2 separate regions of the Homo sapiens genome follow, and region 1 is linked to region 2. A link means that fine-mapping ties the variant in region 2 to the expression of a gene that starts in the linked region. Tissue or cell type: spleen. Region 2 holds a variant in brackets; the other region holds the start of a gene. All regions are shown on one strand. Distances are between the middles of the regions.

Region 1 (4,168 bases), 65 kb before region 2:
GGAGAAAATATTTACAAAGACACATCTAATAAAGGACTCTTATCCAAAATACACAAAGAACTCTTAAAATCCAACAATAAGAAAATGAATGACCCAAATAAAAAATGGGCAAAAGACCTGAAAACACACCTTATCAAAGATATACAGATAGCAAAGAAGCAGAGTAAAAGATGCTCAACGTCATAGACTTATGGAATTTCTGTTAAAACAATGAAATAGCATGATACACGATTGCAGTGCAGTAGAGCTTCCCCCAGGAATACTGTTCCCAGACTTGTGCAGGGCTGGTTCCCTCACTCTTTGCCTTTCTGTTTGCAGCATAAATGCCACTTCATTGAGGTGTTGAGGATTCCCTCACTCTGTCCCTTCCGCCTCTCACCACAAGCACCTGCTTTATTTTACTATAGCACCTGCTCTTTTTTTTTCTCATGCATTTGCTTTTATGCTCTGTCCATTCATTCCTACAGATGGTGAGCTCCTGAGGGCAAGGCCCATGCAGGTCATTTTCAGCACTGCACCCTGGCCTAACTTGCCCCGTGCACAGGTGAGTGCTCCAGGCACAGTTTCTGAATGAATAAATGAGAGTATCGAAGATCCCCCTTCCCACCTGTGAGGAGCTCACATTGAGGAGATGGATGCTCACAGGAGATGCAAGTTGGGTGGGAGGCAGGGGGACACCCAGAGTGACCCTGGGAGTTTCTCTGGCTGCAGCCGCCCCATTGAGCAGAATGGGCAGCGCCTCCCCTGATGGCCAGCACTGAAGACCCAGGCAAGGAACCTAGAAACAAAGCCCTCATCTGGGTGTGGGTGTCCTCAAGGCAGTAGGACTCCCAGGGCTGAGGGGGGCAATGAAGGGGGAGCTGTAAGCTCCAGGAGAGATAAGAGGGGCGTCGGAAGGCTCCCTTGACCCCTCTTTCCCTCCACTGGCCCTGGGGGAGCCCAGTCCACTCATAAGGGGGGTGTCCAGTCCACCCCATCCACTTCCAAACGGGGGCCCGAGGCTGCAAGCAAGGACGCTCCCCTCTACATGCAGGGCTCGGCCTCCCCTGCACCACCCAGGACCCCCGCTGTCCTGCAAGCCCCAGCCGCTCTGGGCCAGGACCCAGGGAGTGGAAGGCATTTTCCAAGGGCACAGTGGCTCCCTGACGGGGAACCAAGGCCAGGCACGCTTCTCCCAGACTGGGGGCCTCGGGGCACCTGAGAATGGCCATCCTTGGTACAAGAGAGCGGGGACCCACTCCCGCGCACCCTGTGCCCCAGGGGACGCAGGACTCTGCACCCTGACCCTAGAGCTTGCCCTAGGATGGCCCGGCCATGGCGAGGCCCTGGAACGGTGAAGACTCTCTGCCCATCAACCTAGCACCTCTGCCCTACCCTCAGTCGCATATGCACCCGGTGCGAGGGAGAAGGCAACCAGGAGGTCACACCTAAGGTGGGGGCGTGAGCGGCAATGCCAGCCGATTGTAAAACCTTCCCTGCTCCTGCGTGGCTCTGCAAGCCAATCGAAAATTCCGTCGTCTATGCCGCCAGCCAATCAGGATGTCCAGAGCGCGGTGCTTCCAGCCATTTGGGACTCCAGCTGGCTCTGCGCCTCCAGCCAATCGGGGTGCCCGTCCTTAATACAACCAGCCAGTCAGTGCCCGGCGCGCGACACCAGCAGCCAGTCAGGAAGCCCTGCGTTCATGCTTCCAGCCATTGTCGGAGTGTCAGCCGTCACAAGGCACTTCCAGCCAGTCGCAACGGCGGGTCGCCAGCGCCGCAGTAGCTCGCGCGGTGCCTGTCGGTAGTCGCGTGCGGGGCGGCGGGGCGGCGGGGCGGCCGGCGGCGGCCATGGGAGATATCCCAGCCGTGGGCCTCAGCTCCTGGAAGGTGACGCGGTCGCGGGCAGGGAGGCGCGCCTGACCTAGGGGAGCGCGGGACTTGGGGGCGCCCGATGGGACCCAGGCCGGGGCTGGGGAGAAGTGCGGCGGCCTCCCCTCCGCCTGGCCGACGCCCGGGAAAGGCGCTGCTGAGGTGGCCGCCCACCGCCCACAAGCAGCCCGGCCCGGCCTTTCCTAAAACGGAGTCGGTGCTGCCCGCCGAGGCGCTCTCTGGGAGAAGCGGGAACCTCGGCAGCCAAGCCTCAGACTCTGGGGCTGCGGCCGCGGCGTTGGGCGGGGCTGCTCTGTGGAGAGGCGGAGCCCTTGAAGTTACTCAGAACTGGAGCGGGGATGCCGAGGGGAGGCCTTGGCGGCGCTGGACTCGGCCGGAACAGGGAACCTCGAAGCCTCCTCTCCAGCAAAGAGAGAAAGAAAAGTTGGGGCCGGGCGTGGGGTGCGGGCTTGTAATCCCAGCACTTTGGGAGGCCGAGGCAGTAGGATCGCCTGAGCTCAGGAGTTCAAGACCAGCCAGGTCAACATGGCGAAACCCTGTTTCTACAAAAAATGAACAAATCAGCTGGGCTTGGGGGTGCGCGCCTGTGGTCCCAGCTACTCAGGAGGCTGAGGTGGGAGGATCACTGGAGACCAGGAAGTCGATGCTGCAGTGAGCTTTGATGGCGCCACTGCACTCCAGCCTTGGGGACAGAGCCAGACCTTGCTGGAAAAAAAAAAAAAAAAAAGAAAAAAGGAAAATTGGAATTGCTGATTAGGCTTTAAAAGAAACTTTGGGATCTCATGTTGTTCCCTGTTTAGAAGCAACCTGCCCTGATGCCTGAGACATATAATCGCTCTGTGCATTTATGGGGTGCAGCGTAATGTTTTGAGCCGTGTATACAATTGCAATGTGGTTAAATCAAGCTAATTAACATATCTATCACCTCTCTCAGTTATTATTGTTTGTGGTAAGATGTTTGAAATGTCTTGTTATTTTGAAATACACATGTGTAGTAAATTATTGTTGACTGTTGGCATCCTAGTGCGCAGTAAGTCTTAAAAGCTGTGTCTCCTGTGTGTTTGAAACTTTGTACCCTTTGATCAGCAACTCCCCATTCCCTCCTTCCTCACCTCCCCCAGCCCCCAGCGTCTTATAACCACCATTCTATTCTACGACCTTTCTCTGCTTTGAACTTCACAATTCCTGCCAGTGATTTGAGACAGCACTGACTAAAAAGCGTTTAAAATTTGATCTTTAAAAAAAAAAAGCTAAACTTAGTTGTTGATAAAAGCTATAAGAAGTCATATAGGAAGTTAGTTACTGAAGGAGTCAGAATGTTCAAGGCCTGCTCATGAAAATATTATTTAAATTATTTCTCTTACCTGCTTACCAACTCTTAGAGGCTAGGAGTGTCGTTTTGTTCATATTGGTTCTCAGCATCTAGTGAAGGACGTGCATCTGTCAGCCCTTCATTCAGTAAGCACTCGATGGATTAAACTGTTGAGTCTCTTGCTTCCCTTTATTTCTGCAACAATTTGGTGCAGGAGTCCAGACTTTCGTGCACACAGGATAAGGAAAAATTAGTGAAAACTGTGCTTAACAGGTCAAAATATTCTATTTATTTTTCTTGGACTGCAGGTGCATCAAATTGGATTAATCATAATCACTCATCACTGGTCTATGCAAAGGCTTATTTTTACTCGTCTATTTTTAATAGTGAATAAACATCACAGACCTATCCGTTATCTGTTGCCCCAGAAATGCTGCATCAATGGCCAAACACCAGACCTCAGTGGTGTACAGCAGCAAGTGTATTCCTCCCACACGGGAGGTCAGGAGAGCAGCTCTGTGGACCTTGGCTGGGCTCAGTTGGGATGGTTGGGGCTACTCCACTTGGCTCCGCACATCTCCTGTCCTCGTGCGGTTAGTTAGGGAGTGTTCTCAAGATGATGGCTGAAGCACAAGAGAGCAAGGGGAGCGGTGAGATGTCTGGAGACCTCAGCCTGGGCTCTTCATTATTAGGGGCCACTTGATCCATCTGTGTGCCTGATCGGTGCTGTCTTAATTACTACAGTTCCTTGATAAGCGCCCATACCTAGTAGGGCAGGTCACCTCTCCCTGCTGTTGTAGATTTACAGTGTACAATTTGATGAGTTTTGACAGATGCATGTACCTGGGTCCTGGCTTTTTATTTTGGCACCTTACTCTCCACTGTAAGTTTTAGAACTAGCTTAGAAGGTTCCATGAGAAACTTTATTGGGGTTTTGATTGGAACTACATTAAATCTGTAGACCAGCTTGGAGATAATTGACAC
Region 2 (4,168 bases):
AGGAGCTCTACAGCTAAGAGTGAGCTCTCCACAGAAACAGATGCATTGGTACACAGCACCTTTGTGGTATAGAATATATCTTTTCTCTTCACAGTGCCGTTGGCAATCTTCTTTCGGATGGCCTGCCCGATGCCTTCTTCATTCAGGTGTGTATAAGCTGAGTCAATATGGCGGTAGCCTACATCAATTGCTACCTGGACGGCTTCTTCTACATTACTCATAGCAACCTGGAAGAGCATAAAGAGATAAAGATTTGTTTGACTCAGGAACAGATGATCAATTCTCTTAGCAGAGATATTCAAAAGAACCTTTTTTTTCCCTACTAAGGGCTAAGAGCTACAGGTGGCAAAGCTAAATGTTGAGTAAAAATCAATGGTAAATGTTTAACAGCTAGCTCTGAGGAAGTCCTGGTTTGTAGTATTTGCCAGTTTCAATAGTGTAAATACTCCCACCATGGATAAGTTCAAGCTTGCCAAATTGGGCAAAGATGCTCACAATACACTCTTTTGAGTCCTCATGAGCACGTCACAGTCTTTAAACCTCTATTTATGTATTTATAGAATGTATATGATCTATAGATTTGCACAATCTATAGATTTACATTCCTAACTTAATTTGCTCTATAAGAGATTATGAAATTGGTTTTGATCCAATAATTTAATGCTAATAATTATCTATCTGCATAAAGATATAACTTTAGACACAATAAATTATTAATTTACCTATCTAAACTTGGAAAAACAAAGAACATTTGAGGAAGAACAAAAATAGGAATCATTTTAAAAAATCATTTTAAAAGAAAATTTTTAAAGAAATAGCTTTTAAAATAAAATAAGCTATTTTCTTTTAAAATATTTTAAAATAAATTATTTTATTTTTAAAATAAAAAATTATTTTAAAAGAAAAACTTTTTTCACTTAAAAAAACTCATAATTAATTCTTCTTTTGGTTGCTTTGCTGGTTCTTAGGCATCACTTTCTCCTTCACATCTTTCTTATATTTTTTTATTCTCCTGGCCCACCAGCCTGGACTCTTTAAGTCATCCATAATTTTTCTGTTTATATTAGCACCCCCTACACCTCACTCAGTAATTATAATGCCTTTTGGGTATATTTGTTTCATTTCTATCTACCGTTGAGTCAACTGAGTCCGTAAAGATAAACTATCCCCAGGTTAAAGAGCCAAGGCATGGCAAAAGCAATACTTCATGAGAGTCTTCTTTGCAGTCCTCAATGGTACACACCATGTTTCTTTTGTGTTGGGAAACAATCCTACAACTTTTATAACATTCTTCACCAGGAACCACTGAGATGTGCCCTTGTAGGTCTGGAGTGTTTGATCCAGAAACATGCATGGAGCCAAAGAGAAGAGAATTTTCCAAGTACTACATAACTCTTTGATGGCACCGTCTTACCAACCTGGCTTCTCAGAGACCGTGGCCACCTTAGACCACACAGCTACCTCTAAGCCTGCCTCTCTTTCCCCAAGTTCCTTTGCCACACAACTTTCTCTAGATACTCTTATTGGTGGTGAACAGGGAGGACTTGGGTACTAAAAATTACAGCACAACTTTAAAGTTTGCTGTGAAGTTTCTGGCACATGGTAATCATGTCAATAGTGTTTTATTTCCTCTAATATACTGTGAAAATGGCTACAACTGTACAACAAGAGAGAGTAACAGCCACAGACTTACCCACCCCTGAATTCTGAGCAATTGCTTGCACACTTCCATCTCTCTTGACGGACTGCCACTCCAAGCGTGGTTTTGGACAAGCAGCATCAAAATTGCTTGGGAGCTTATTATAAATGTGAATTTTACAGCCTCATCCAAGATCTACTCAATCAGAACCTTCAGGGATAGAGCCTCCAAATCTGCATTTTTAACAAGATCCTGAAGTGTTTATATCACTACTAAAACGTGAAAAGCCTTTACTTAATCCACAAAGTGGTGAGTAAGGGCTAACTTCTCACCAAGGGCTAACTTGGTGAGAAGTGTCTTAAAATGAGAAAAGTGAGGCCCACCTGAATTTCCCAAACTCACATAGTGACTAATTCTGATCAGGAACCACCTGCTACTCCTCCATCCCCAATGCCATTATGGTTACCTTCCTAGCAACAGAGGTGCCAAACCCCAGAATAGGCATGAACTTTCCATCATTCAGTTTTACAGAAAGGAGTCTGTTAAAACTCATCTTCTTTTACTTTTCCTGCAAAGCAGAGGGTTTTTTTCCCTTTATTAAGGGAAATCTGTAGAGAAAAGAAAATACAATGACTATTTTTATAACAACCTTTTTTTCTTTTGAGATGAAGTCTCACCCTGTCGCGTGACCTCTATATTGATCTTGTATCTTGTATCTATATTGATCTTGTATCCCACAACTTGTCTGAACTTGTTTATCAGCTCTAATAGTATTCTAGTAGATTCCTTAAGATTTTCTTTTTTCTTTTTTATGAGAATAGAAATGGGGCCTCACTATGTTGACAAGGCTGGTCTCAAACACTTGGTCTCAAGCAGTCCTCCTACCTCAGCCTCCCTAAATATTGAGATCACAGGTGTGAGCCAATGC[G/T]ACTAGCCCATAAGATTTTCTACAGGCATGATTATGTAATCTGCAGGTAGAAATAGTTTTATTTCTTTTTTATAATGGCTTGGCTGGTGTCCCTCTAAAATTCATGTTTACCCAGAACTTCAGAATATGACCTTTTATGGAAATAAAGTTTTTACAGATATAATTAGTTAATATGAGATCATAATGAATTAAGGTGGGTTCTAAAGTCAATGACTAAAGTCTTTAGAATAAGAAGAGAGAATACAAATACACACAGAAAAGAAAGCCATGTAACCATGAAGGCAGAGATTGAAGTGATTCAACTATAAGCCAAGGCATGCCAACTGCTACTGGGAGCCACCAAAAGCTAGTCAAAGGCAAGGGAACCATCTTCCCGAGAGCTTTCATGGGGAGCATGGCCCTATAAACAACTGGATTTTTGACTCAAGTCTCCAGAACTGGAAGAGAATACAATCCTCTTTTGTTGTTCTAAACCATCCAATTTGTGAGTAATAGGTTATGGCAGCTCTAAATCTAAAATATTTTCCAATCTGGATGCTTTTCTTCCCTTGCCTAATTTTCCTAGCTAGAACCTCCAGTACAATGCTTAATAGCAGTGGCAAGAATAGACATTCTTATGTTGTTCCTTATCTTAGCAGGAAAGCGTTCAGTCTTTTACCAATAAGTATGAAGTTTGGGTTTTTTTTTAATAGTTGCTCTTTATAAAATAAAATCTCTTTTATTCCTAGTTTTTTGAGTGTTTTTTTAAAATCATGAAAGGATGTTGGAGTTTTTAAAATGCTTTTTCTGAATTTGTTGAGATGATCATGTAGTTTTGTTCTTCATTCTATTAATACAATGTATTATATTGATTGATTTTTGTATGTTCAAACAATATTGCATTCCTGGAATAAGCTTCACTTGGTCATGGTATATAATGCTTTTATGTGCTACTGGGTTCAATTTGCTGGCATTTTATTTATATTTTTATAGCTGTATTCATAAGGGATTTTGTTCTGTAATTTTTTTTCTTGTGATGTCTGTCTGGCTTTGGTATCTGGTAATACTGGTCTCTAAAAGTGAGTCCTTAAAAGTGTTCTTTCCTCCTCTATTTTTGGAAGAGTTTGAGAAAGTTAGTGTTAATTTTTAAATGTTTGGTAGAACTCATCCATGATGCCAACTGTATCTGGGCTTTTCTTTGTGAATTTATAAAAATATATATTAGTATTTACATCACTTTACTTGTTATAGAACTGTTTATATTATCCATTTTTTCAGTGTTAGTATTTTATATTGTTCTAGGAATTTGTCATTTCATCTGAGTTATCTTTAAAGAGATTGCAATGTCTCCTCTTTCATTTTTTATTTTAATAATTTGCATCTTGTCTATTTTTTGCTTGATAAGTCTAACTAAAGGCTTATTGTACCAGACAAATCACTAAGTGACCTTGAATTGACATTAATACAAATAGTAAGTTTTATCTCAACACCAGTAGCTTAATAACAGCAGATACAAAGCAGGCAGGAAAGGAAATAAAGGATAAATAGTTACAGAAGACTCTCATTAACTCTGTAGTTACGGGTTAACCATTTAAGCTCTGAATTTTTATTTTCAATTTGCC

Which allele goes with the higher level. Alleles are on the strand shown, and positions count from the first base shown. SD is a standard deviation of normalised expression in the study named.
For the expression in spleen of the gene that starts at base 1,713 in region 1, G is the high allele of the variant in region 2 and T is the other (moderate effect, 0.47 SD a copy in GTEx).

The links. PIP is the estimated chance that this variant, and not a neighbour inherited with it, causes the effect.
Region 1: AKR1E2 starts here. The variant in region 2 is fine-mapped to the expression of AKR1E2 in spleen (GTEx, PIP above 0.99).

Annotation. Positions count from the first base shown.
Region 1 is chr10:4,824,495-4,828,662 of GRCh38, forward strand. It overlaps AKR1E2 (aldo-keto reductase family 1 member E2), which reads left to right and starts at 1,713. Exons shown (of 10, transcript NM_001040177.3): 1 at 1,713-1,869. The coding sequence starts at 1,831. RefSeq lists a silencer at 2,140-2,219.
Region 2 is chr10:4,889,778-4,893,945 of GRCh38, forward strand. It overlaps the pseudogene AKR1C6P. Among named protein-coding and RNA genes, the nearest start is that of AKR1E2, 66 kb to the left of the region's middle. The variant G/T (reference allele first, on the strand shown) is at 2,568.